3 linked regions of the Homo sapiens genome follow. The protein of the gene in region 1 purifies or fractionates together with the protein of each later gene. This does not show direct contact. Each region holds a gene or a part of one and is shown in the gene's direction. Other genes may lie near its edges.

The links.
Region 2: the proteins of METRNL (region 1) and C1QTNF9 purify together in Homo sapiens (co-immunoprecipitation; one large-scale study listed by IntAct). This does not show direct contact.
Region 3: the proteins of METRNL (region 1) and NOTCH2 purify together in Homo sapiens (co-immunoprecipitation; one large-scale study listed by IntAct). This does not show direct contact.

The regions. Positions count from the first base shown.
Region 1 is NC_000017.11:83,086,083-83,089,733, forward strand, and holds part of METRNL (meteorin-like protein isoform 1 precursor), read left to right. Parts: intron 1-3,651. UniProt on the Homo sapiens protein: Hormone induced following exercise or cold exposure that promotes energy expenditure. Induced either in the skeletal muscle after exercise or in adipose tissue following cold exposure and is present in the circulation.
Region 2 is NC_000013.11:24,312,489-24,316,139, forward strand, and holds part of C1QTNF9 (complement C1q and tumor necrosis factor-related protein 9A precursor), read left to right. Parts: intron 1-2,405; exon of another isoform or gene 2,406-2,489; intron 2,490-3,493; 5' UTR 3,494-3,515; coding exon 3,516-3,651. UniProt on the Homo sapiens protein: Probable adipokine. Activates AMPK, AKT, and p44/42 MAPK signaling pathways.
Region 3 is NC_000001.11:120,063,123-120,066,773, reverse strand, and holds part of NOTCH2 (neurogenic locus notch homolog protein 2 isoform 1 preproprotein), read left to right. Parts: intron 1-3,651. UniProt on the Homo sapiens protein: Functions as a receptor for membrane-bound ligands Jagged-1 (JAG1), Jagged-2 (JAG2) and Delta-1 (DLL1) to regulate cell-fate determination.

The DNA.
Region 1 (3,651 bases):
GAAAATTCTGTGGGTAGACACCAGGAGGCATGAGGTCCTGGGAGGCACCTGTGGGCCGTGTGACCTCCATGGTCTGTGTGGCCTCGGACTCGGGTGTACAGACTTCTATCCTGAATGGGAATCCACATTTTTGTGTTCTATGTTCTTGGCCTAGATTACTTTTCATCTCTCTCTGAAATCTCTCCCAGGTAGACTGGTCATTTACAGAGTGAGTGTAGGACCGTCTGCCTGGAGTCCTGACTGCCCCGAGTCCCAGCTGGCCCATGAGCTCAGACTGCCCCTTGGGCCTCAGCACCCGCAGGGCTGGACGCTGATGTAAACTCAGCTGTGCTGTGGTTGGTTGCACGCTGGATAAAACTTTAACCACGGCGGCCTTTATCTTGGTCACCAACAGTTATGGTGGGTGGGAGACCTGGGGGAGGGGGTACCAGCCTTGCTCTGGGGGCCCTGGAGAAAAACTCACAATGAGGCGAAACCTGGAGAAATCCAAGCTCCAAGTTCAGTCTTTCTAACCGGAGGTAGAAGGTGCCGGGCCAGATGTTAGGAACTTGCAAACATTCTTTCTGCTGATTAAAGTGGTGATTGGTCTTGAAGACGTTGGGCTGCGGGTCACATGCTCTGTGGCCTGAGCTTTGTTCTGCTTCTGGGTGAGATTCTTAGAGAGGCTGTGGTGTAGTCCGTCCCTGCCACGCACACCTGGACGTCCACACTGGCACAGGCCCGATTTCTACATTTCCAGGGGAAATTCAATGGTTCTAGTTGTCAGCTGGGGCGACCCTTACGGAGCCTGTGCCCTCACCTTTGGGAACAGAGACTTTGTCTCTCCTGCCTCTGGGGGTGGGGTCCGAGGCCTACAGGCCCTGTGTAGGCTGGGGCGGTGGGTGGGTTTGGGAGAGGCATGGGATGGTAGGGGCTGAGCTGCCTTGGGGTCCTGTGGGGTTGCAGGGAGGCAGCGGCCTCTTGTGAGGAGTGACTTGAGCCCCAAGGGACCAGAGCAGGCATTCGGCGGTGGGTCCTCGCTCACCCTCCGTGTGCCTCCTGGGCCTGTGGGGTCCTGCGCAGGTCTGTGGCCCCAGTACACGTCAGGCTGGCTTGGGGTCCCAGAACTTTGCTGTGTCCTGTGAGGCAGGTGCTTGGGTTTCCTTGTTTACACTTGGTGACCCTGCGGCATCTGCTTAAACCGAGCCTGAGGTGATTTCCAGTGCCCTGTGGGTGGTGGGTTGCTTATCCGAGGAAGCAGACATGCAGGGATCCTCGGAACTGACAGGGGCCCAGACTCTGAGGTTCACCGGGGGCCCCCGGAGCTGGGACCCACGCCTGGCATCTCACGGGAACGGGCACAGATGCAGGCCCCTCCCTGGGCTGAGCACCTCCAGGGCCCTCACGAGAGGCCTCTCCTATCCTGATGGGGTGGAGGGGCAGGAGGGATCCGAGGAGGCTGATACCTCTCCTCTCCCCAGGGTATTCGCCTTTCATCAGGGGACGGGGGCCCCTAAGCCTTTAATGCTGCAGGAATGGGTACATAATGTGGAATGTCGGTGCCGGCCGTCTGGCAGCAGTGACGCCATCCCCTGGGCCAGGCCGGCTCCCCAGCACTCTCCGGCCAGCGCCGCGGTTTCCCTTGCCTCCCGTTCCTGCACTTGCTGTAGCTGCGAGAGCCGACGGAGGCTGAGCCGGGCAGCGCCAGCCCCGCCGAGCCTGAGGTGAGCCTGAGCCTTTGGCCTGGCAGCACGACCCACGGGAGGTGGACGAGCTCGTCTGTGTGTCAGAAGTTCCAGTTTGTGCTGACTCAGGAGGACAGAGGCTCCGTGGGCTGGAACCCCGGACAGGAGAGGGTGTGTGAGCCCCGTCCCCTGCCCAGCCAGGAGGAAATCCCCCGCTCCGGTGGGTTTCGTTGGTGTGATCGTGGTGCGTTCATGCTGCATAATCGGCTTCCTTGAGTAAACTGAGACACGCCGATGACCAAGAGTTGGCCGGAACACGGGGGCAGGCTGCTCCTCCAGGGGTACACACTGGGGGCCAGGCGGGAGGGGACCCGGCCCCAGGACCTTGGGATTTGGCTGACTACGGGCAGGACCTCTCAGCCCTGCACCAGCCGCCTCTGCAGGCGACACGGACGCCTTCCTTGGATGCTGAGGAAACCCCGCAGGATGGGGGTGGCAGAGAGTGGTCAGGTGCAGCTTCCGGCCGTGCCCAGACCTGTGCCCAGCAGACCTGGCTGAGGCCGTGTGGGGCTGCTGTTTGCAGGCCAGGGAATCCGGGAAACGGGCACCGTTCAGTGGCTTGGGGAATGTGGGTGGGGGCTGTCTGGTTCTGGGGTACACAGACCCGAGACAGTCCAGGCAGGTCCCAGGATTCCAGTCTGTTCTTCAGCTTCTCCCAGGGCTGTGTGTCAGATGCTCCTGGCTTGGCCACATCTGTGCTTGGGGTTTGGGGTGCAGGCTCTGTGTAAGGCCCCCCAATGCAGGCCCCAGTGAGCAGGTGCCCAGGGCCGGGCAGCAGCATCGTGGACACAGGCAGTGGGAGGGGAGGGGATGCTGCCTTGATGCTGATCATGAGCACGTGGTGCCGTCCCTGGCTCTCCAGGACGCCGGAGTCCTGCAGCGTCTCAGGGGCCTCAACGCCTCCCCCCTTTAAAATCCTGCCCCTGGCTGAGCCCGTAGGTGAATGACCAGCTCGGCGGGCGCAGAGCCCCTGCCGATGAGCCCCCTCCAGGAGCCTCAGAGTTTGGAGAAGTCCTTGATGGGTGGGAGGGATGGGTGGAAAAGTGTGGAAGATAATTCTCATTATTTCCTGGAAGTAGAGGAGAGGGGCTGATTTTTCCAAGGCGTCCCATCTCTCGTCCATCTTTGGCTTCCTGCTTGGTGCCTTCTCTCCGGCCACTGTAATTTTCATTTTAACCATCTCTGGGCTTGTGGAGAGGAAGGGTGTGGCCCCCGCCAGCTTCCTCACCAGGAAGAGGGAGGGAGAAAGGGAGGCAGGGGGAAGGGCAGGGGCTATGGGGCCAACACCCCCGGGGCACCCCAGCAATGGACTGCAGCCTGGAGTGCGGCCGCAGCGCGACGGTGATGATGGTGGCCTTGAGGGGAGCCTTGGGAGCTCAGCCTTGGGTCCTCGAGCCCACTGGAGCCCACCCTCCACCCCTACCCACTGCTCCCTGTTCTTGGCTCCTCTGAAAGCACCTTATCCCCGTCACCGGCTCCTCTAAAAGCAGCGTGTCCCCCCGCTACCCCGTCACCACCTGTGTGGGAGACCCAGTAATCGTGGCCACAGAGGTTTCCCGTCGGAACTGTGTGAGTCCCTCTGGCTGTCCTTACCTGGGCAGTCCTGCCGGACCGGTCGGTGTCTGTCATTCTCAGCCTCTCCTCGGAACCAGCCGGTCCTGCCTCTCTACTTAACACCTGCCGTGCAATCTAAGTCCCCGCAGCAGCGTCCCCAACCCCACCCTGCCGGTCCCTCCCACCCTGTTCATGCTAGCTCCTGAGAGACCTGCCTGAGATGTCCACACCCCAGCCCTCCCCCTCCGAGGAGGATGGACCAGGATTCCAACCCTTTGCCGACCCTCCCCACCGCCCTGGAGACGAGGTGCAATGTGTCCGTGAGCAGCGCGTTCCGCAGCCTTTATGAGCCTGGCTCCTGTTAATAATTGTC
Region 2 (3,651 bases), on another chromosome or scaffold:
AATGAAACTGAGGGTCCAACCCATAGCTTTGTGAGAGGCACAAATGTAATTTTTTATTTTTCAAAATAACATTAATATAATTTCTTCTATATTCCTTGTGCAAATCCTCAACCTTCTACATTAAAGAAGAGGCTAAATAGGAGGTATAAACTTGCTAAAATTTCTTATTAAAAAATAGTGCCAAGCGGCCGTGTGCAGTGACTCACACCTGTAATCCCAGCACTTTGGGAGGCCGAGGTGGGCGAATCACAAGGTCAGGAAATCGAGACCATCCTGGCTAACATGGTGAAACCCCGTCTCTACTAAAATACAAAAAATTACCCGGGCATGGTAGTGGGTGCCTGTAGTCCCAGCTACTCGGGAGGCTGAGGCAGGAGAATGGTGCGAACCCGGGAGGCAGAGCTTGCAGTGAGCCAAGATCGCGCCACTGCACTCCAGCCTGGGCGACAGAGCGAGACTCTATCTCAAAAAAAAAAAAAAAGAAAAAAAAAATAGTGCCAACCTAGGTGGTGACCACGTCTCTAATCCCAGCTATTCAGAAGGCTGAGGCAGGAGGACCACTTAAGCCTAGAAGTTCGAGTCCAGCCTGGGCAACATTCATGAGACTGTATCTCTATAAACAAACAAACAAACAAACAAATAAAACAGAAATAGTGGCACAACTTACTTTGCTACGTATTTGGGAGAACGCATATTAGTTAATCAAAATCATTTGCTGAAGGTTGTCTACATGCTGTATAAACAAGCTAGATAGACTCTACCTACATCAAATATGCAAAACTAGTGAAATAATTACAGAAGAGTAACCATTTGCTTCCAGGCTGGCTTCTTCTTCCCTGGAGAGCAAATTGGAGTTTATCCTAACCTGACACCTTTATGATCTTCTGATCATTTTATTCCTGGAATAGTTGTACTCCACATTTTGAAAAGTTAAAATGAAAATTATAGAACCCTCAACAAAGTTTGGTTGATGGAATTTCGATTTGACTGCTTCCGGCCACTTCTGAGTTTAGCAAAGGAGGCTCGTGTATATTCTTCATGGAATTTGGCTCCAAGAAAACTCAACTCAATTTCCTGGAATGGAGCGAATTTGTGACTTCGAAGGGAAGCATCTGCATTTCCTTTCCCAAAAATACTCCATTTGCATTAGACTGCTCCCTGTGACATTTCCACCAGATGGCAATACAGTCTTTGGATGACAGAGAGTCTTGCTGGTTTTCAAAATCTCTAGAAATATTTGTGTAGGCACTATAAAAAAGCATTTTTTATAAATGAAAAGCTCCCATAACTGCCCCCCATTCTAAAGCAACCATCTTTATTTGCATATATTCACTTTGAGTTTTTGTCAATATTCATACAGTCGTAAGTACATTTATAATGTGCATGGCATTTTAGTCTACTATCAAAATTCAGCACAATGTATATCATTTACATATTTCTACATGACCTTCATAATTATTGCAGCAGTTACATACTATTACACATAGTAAACCTTTCCCCTATTGTTACATAGTATGTAGTATGCACGTTTTCACCTGTTATAGATAATGCTGCAGGTAATGGCACACAATTGGCACACAGTTTTGGAACATTAGGAAGAATTTTAGGGATAGCAATACAGGGTGAAAGACATAGATGTCTTTTGCTCTTTAACTTTTCCAGAAAGATGTGCAGATTTACATGGCTATCAGCACTGTGAGAGGATCTGGGTTCTGACCAGTTGCACTATGCCCACGTTTTTGTTTTACTTCATTTTTTTAAATCCTAAAAGTCAGGTACAGGGTCTTTAGCCTGTAATACTAGCACTTTGGGAGACTGGCGGGAGGATTACTTGAGCTCAGGATTTCAAGACCAGCCTGGGCAACAGAGTGAGACCCAGTCTCTCCAAAGAAAAAAAAAAAAAGAAAGAAAGAAAAATAGGCAATGGCTCATGCCTGTAATCCCAGCACTTTGGGAGGCCAAGACAGGCAGATCACCTGAGGTCAAGAGTTTGAGACCAGCCTGGCCAGCATGGTGAAACCCCGTCTCTACTAAAAATACAAAAATTAGCTAGGCGTGGTGGTGGCGCCTGTAGTCCCAGCTACTTGAGAAGCCGAATTGCTTGAACCTGGGAGGCAGAGGCAGCAGTGAGCAGAGATCGGCCATTGCACTCCAGCTTGGGCCACAAGGGCGAAACTGCATCTCGAAAACAAAACAAAACAAAACCAAACCCAGGTGTGGTGGTGCATGCCTGTAGTCCCAGCTACTTGGGAGGTTGAAGCAAGAGAATCGCTTGAGCTGGGAGGTTGAGACTACAGTGAGCTGTGATTGCATGACTGTACTTCAGCCTGCGTGATGGAGCAAGACCTTGTCTCCAAAAATTATATATAAGGAAAGGACTTGAAAATGCATTTCTCCCGAACTAGGTGATGTTTCCGTGTGTGTGGCCCTTCTTCACAGTGGCCTCCTAGAAAAACAAGACCCTGACTCAAAGAACACCTCTCACTACAGTAAGACTTCTTGGAATGCTTTACTTTTTTAAAAATTTAATTTAATTGTTTAATGTGGTAAAAAATATATAACATAAAACGTAAAACTAACCAGCTTAACCATCTTAAGGGCACAATTCAGTGGCATTATGTACGTTCTCTTTGTTGTGCAACCATCACCACCACCCATCTCCAGAACTCTTTTAAAATCTTCCCAAACAGAAACTCTGTACCCATCAAACAACTCCCATTTCCTTCTCTCTTCACCTCTGGCAACCTCCATCCTACTTTTTCTTTATATGAGTTTGACGGCTCTAGGAACCTCTTATAGGTGAAATTATCCAGGTCTGTCTTTTTGTGACTAGCTGGTTTCACTTCGCATAATGTTCTCGAGGTCCATTCATGTTGTAACATGTGTCAGAATTTCTTCTCTTTCTAAGGCTGAAGAATATTCCATTGTATGGACCTACCACATTGCATGTATCTATTTATCCACTGAGGGACCCTTGGGTTGCTATGGAAAATAATGCAACTACGAACATGGACATCTGTTCCAGTCCTTGCTTTCAATTATTTTGTGTAGATGCACAGCAGTGGAATTGCTGGATCAGATGGTAATGCTATGTTTGCTTCACTACTTGGAATGTGCCTTTATGCATATCGTGATAAAATTTGATCTGTACGACAGTCCTGTGAGATAAGTAAGCATTGATCTCTGGTTCAGAAAAGTGATTTCTTCAAAGTGAAATGATGAACGGAAGAGTATCCTGACCTTAAACTTGGCTTTTTAAATTGCCCGTTCACCTTGAAGAGTGGTTCCAATCACAAGTGTTACCTTCCAAGGACAGTGTCATTCTGGTTATAATCAGCTTGCTCCCCTGCCCTGAGCCTTCTGTCCAAGTTTGTGCAGGTGTGGGTCTGGGGCAGGGGACAGCTCATCCATTTCCCACTGCACGGAACAGAGGCTGTGTCCAGGGCCCCAGCAACAAAGATTTCTCCTTTGGGTTTCTGTTTCCCTCTTTCAGTTCAGAGTCTGTCATCTGAACCATGAGGATCTGGTGGCTTCTGCTTGCCATTGAAATCTGCACAGGGAACATAAACTCACAGGACACCTGCAGGCAAGGGCACCCTGGAATCCCTGGGAACCCCGGTCACAATGGTCTGCCTGGAAGAGATGGACGAG
Region 3 (3,651 bases), on another chromosome or scaffold:
CTGAATGTTTAGATTTAAAAAATATTTACCCATAACTTCTTGGGATCTCTCTGCTCCATTCCCACCCTACTGCCTCTCCTGTAGGCTTCTATGACATAGAGGAGCAACTTTTGGTTCACCTGGATTGTAGTTGCTGACTTCAGGACCTTTAGAGAATGTTTAAATTCAGTGGGATATGCTTGGATGGTTCAGAGCAGCCTTACAATACATCTTAAAAATATCACACCCACAGAAATTCTATTTTGCCCACAAAATTTGCATTGATCTAGTTCCCACTCTGTGTTGCCATTCCTAGTGATCCTCCTCCCTACCTCTCCCATTATGGTAGAAAAAACTCTGTGTCCTGGCTACATCAAAATCTGTTGGGGTGGATCTTGGACTCAGCACCCAGGGATTCTGATAAGGTAAGTTTGAGAATCCATATTTTTTCAAGGTTTACAGGTGATTCTGACAAGTAACTTGGTTGCAACCCACTGATTAAGTACATTTTTTTTTACCTTCAGGTGTGTGTATGAGGTCTTTCTAAATTTAAGAAATTTCCATAACAAATGTAACCTTAGTCATTCCAGTGTTTAACGCTTCTGACTCAAGGAATTTAAAAATTGCTAACGTAAGAGATATAGAATATAATGTCATTTCTTCTATTTATCTGGGTGCAATATGTCTGCATTGACCCTTTAGAAGGGCTTCATATATTTAGATGATATAATAAATTCTCCACCTCTCCTTTTCCCTTTTCTTCTGTTATCTCTTTTTCCTTAAATGTCATTCATACATGTTGTTTTTTGACCCTTTATCTATATACGTCTGCAATGATTTTAGAGTAAAAAACTGCAAGGCGTGATTTGAATAAGGATATAAGAAATTTTACATCATTTTCTTTATATTGTGTTCACAGTCCATAGTTACATGCTTCCTTTCTTGATGTCTCAGTTCGAATGCCTAAATTTGAACTATTGATTTTCCTTCCACCCTTTCCTGATTTTCCTGTTTTTGTTTCTCCCCCTTTCTCTGCAAATGACTTGAAACCAAAAGGTCTTCTTTTCTTTCTTTGTCAGCCTACCGTATGTGTAGTATTTTGGACAGATCACTGAACTAGGAGCCAGAAGACCAGAATTCTTCTCCAGGTCTGTTATTAATTGGTTTGGTGACCTTGTAGGAGAGCCACTGTTTCCGTCCTCCATTTTCTGATGTTCATTGTTCATGGTCACAGAGCCAATTAGAGTTGAGACTAGAATTCCTTTCTTCTGGTGTCCAGTGCCTCATTCACTGTCCTCATTGCTTCCATCTCGTGTACAAATGCGCTTATGTGCACAAAAACTCTTATAACATCCTCAAGTGCTTATTGTTAATGCGTACATGAGGAAGGAATCGTGTATTTTCATTTATGTGTTTATTCTAATGCCCATACCCTACCCCTGTACCTGGCATGATGCCTTGGTATCTAATAGGCACACAATAAATACTTGTTCAGTCGAACAATTATTTTTAGCCATTTTCTTATTTTGGACAACTGTGGTACTCCTAGACATTTTAAAAACAGTATTTGCAGGAGTCATGCTTACCTTACATTTGGGGAAAAACCAAATTTTTCCCTTCCCCAGATGTTTCATTTTAACTTGTAATTTTGAATTTCTTTGTGTGTGGGGTTTCTTTCTTTCTTTTTCTGATCACTTCTGCAATTTATAAAGGTCACTTTGACTTTGGAATCTCACTTCAAAGGCACTGCCATCCACCCCCTGCCTCTCACTCAAGTTTGCTTCCACTGCTTCCTGTATTACTGTATTACTAGGCCAGCAATTTCTGTTATTTTGTCCAGAATAGCCACACCTTATTGTAATTTCATCATTTTGGGGACTAGTCATTTTTGGAATACTATTTTTAAAATTAGAGTTAACTAAGTTTATATTTATTTTGATAATTTTTTTTGAGATTTTTTTCATTGAGTTGGATATTGCAAACTTGTACTGGATTGAGAGAATATGTACATTTAGTAAAGTATATTTGCTTTTTTTTTTTTTTGAACCAAGAGAGTCCCCTGAACACCCTACTGACAAAAACTAAAGATGAAATATGATGAATAAATATTTGAGAGAATCACATGGTGTTGAGTTGTCTCTGCCACATGATTTTGATCCTTGAGGGCCAGGTCTGTGCTACACACATTTCTTCTCTGTACTACAGAACTTGTCTGGCATGTGCCCCAAATTCAGAGTCAACTGAGCAGCAGGTCTTAGTCACAGCATCTATGACTCCTGCTTTCCCACCTTTAGAACATTCTATAGGAGAGGCTGATGGTGAGTTGGAGTGTGTTTCTATGTTCTTTTTTCCTTTGAAGAGATAGGATCAGTTGAAAGCTGACCCCACCCACAGACTTTTTTTGCTATCTCTTTTAATTAATTAAGGAGTGGCTGAAATTTTCCTCTTTGTTGACTTATGCATTGGCGGGAACTTTAAAATTCATCTAGTCTTTCTGTCCATCCCATGCTGGATCTGATGTTTACAACATTCTAGTCAAGAGGTACCATATTTTCTCTCTTCTTGAACATCTCTTGTGGTAGACAGCTCTCCACAGCAGTTTATTCCATCTTTGGCCAGCTCTAATTCTTAGAAAGATCTTCTTATATTCAGCTGTAATCCGTCTCCTCATGACTTGTCCTCATTGACATCTACTCAGAAATTTGTCTCAGAGTCCTGAGACCTGTGCAGGTGATAGGGACCCAAAGAGATGCTTGTCTGTAGACTTTACTGAGCTGACACCCAGCTCTCCATAAAAGGAGTCAAACCCAGTGAGGAGCATGTCTGAGGTGATTGCTCAGGTAAAGCATCTTAGCCCTACTTGTTTCATACCTCCCTGCACAGGTGGGCACTGGTGGGAGAATAACATTTATCAAGCAGTGTTTCCCTAACCTCTCTTATGATAAGAATAGCTCAGGTGTTCTCATGGAGATTCTGATTCAGTGCATCTGGAGTGTCATCTGGGAATTTGTGTGTTCAAGAAATAGCCAGGTGATTCTTACATTAGGAAAGTTTTAGAATCACTGCAGAGTGAATCTGGGAAATCAAAGTGTTTTTGTTTGTTTGTTTTTTGAGAGTATTAGAGACAGGTTGCTTTGGCTAGATCCTGTGGTCATTTTTCCCCCTTGGAAATGCCTCCTACTTGCTGGCCTCACTTAGTACAGAGAAGAAAGCTGCTATGGTATAAGGTTAGTAAAGTTGTTTTGTCTTAAAAGAAATTTGCGAAATCCAGCATTTTCAGACTTCTGTTTGTGTTGTATGACTTTGTTGTAAGCCTCCTTATTCCTCCATTAGAATGTTACCTGAGATGTTAGAATGCATAGGAGTTCCACAGCCTTTTTGGTGTCCACTAAAGAATTCTGTCCTCAGCCGTTGCAAATGGTGCTTCCTTTGAGGATTTCTGCTTCATTAGCTCATGAACACATATTTGGTGTCGGCAGTTTCCCTCAGATGTGTTAGTGTGGAGAGATATAAAGGTCACTCATTTCTGGCAGTCCTGCTTTTGGGGTTTCTGGGCTGCTGCAGCAAATGAAATAAGGAAAGGAAAATAAAGGAGGAATCTAGGGCTTCTTGAGCAGAACAAAACAATCTGCAAGAAGGGGCACAGGATTGCTCCTCTCACAAAGACACTTG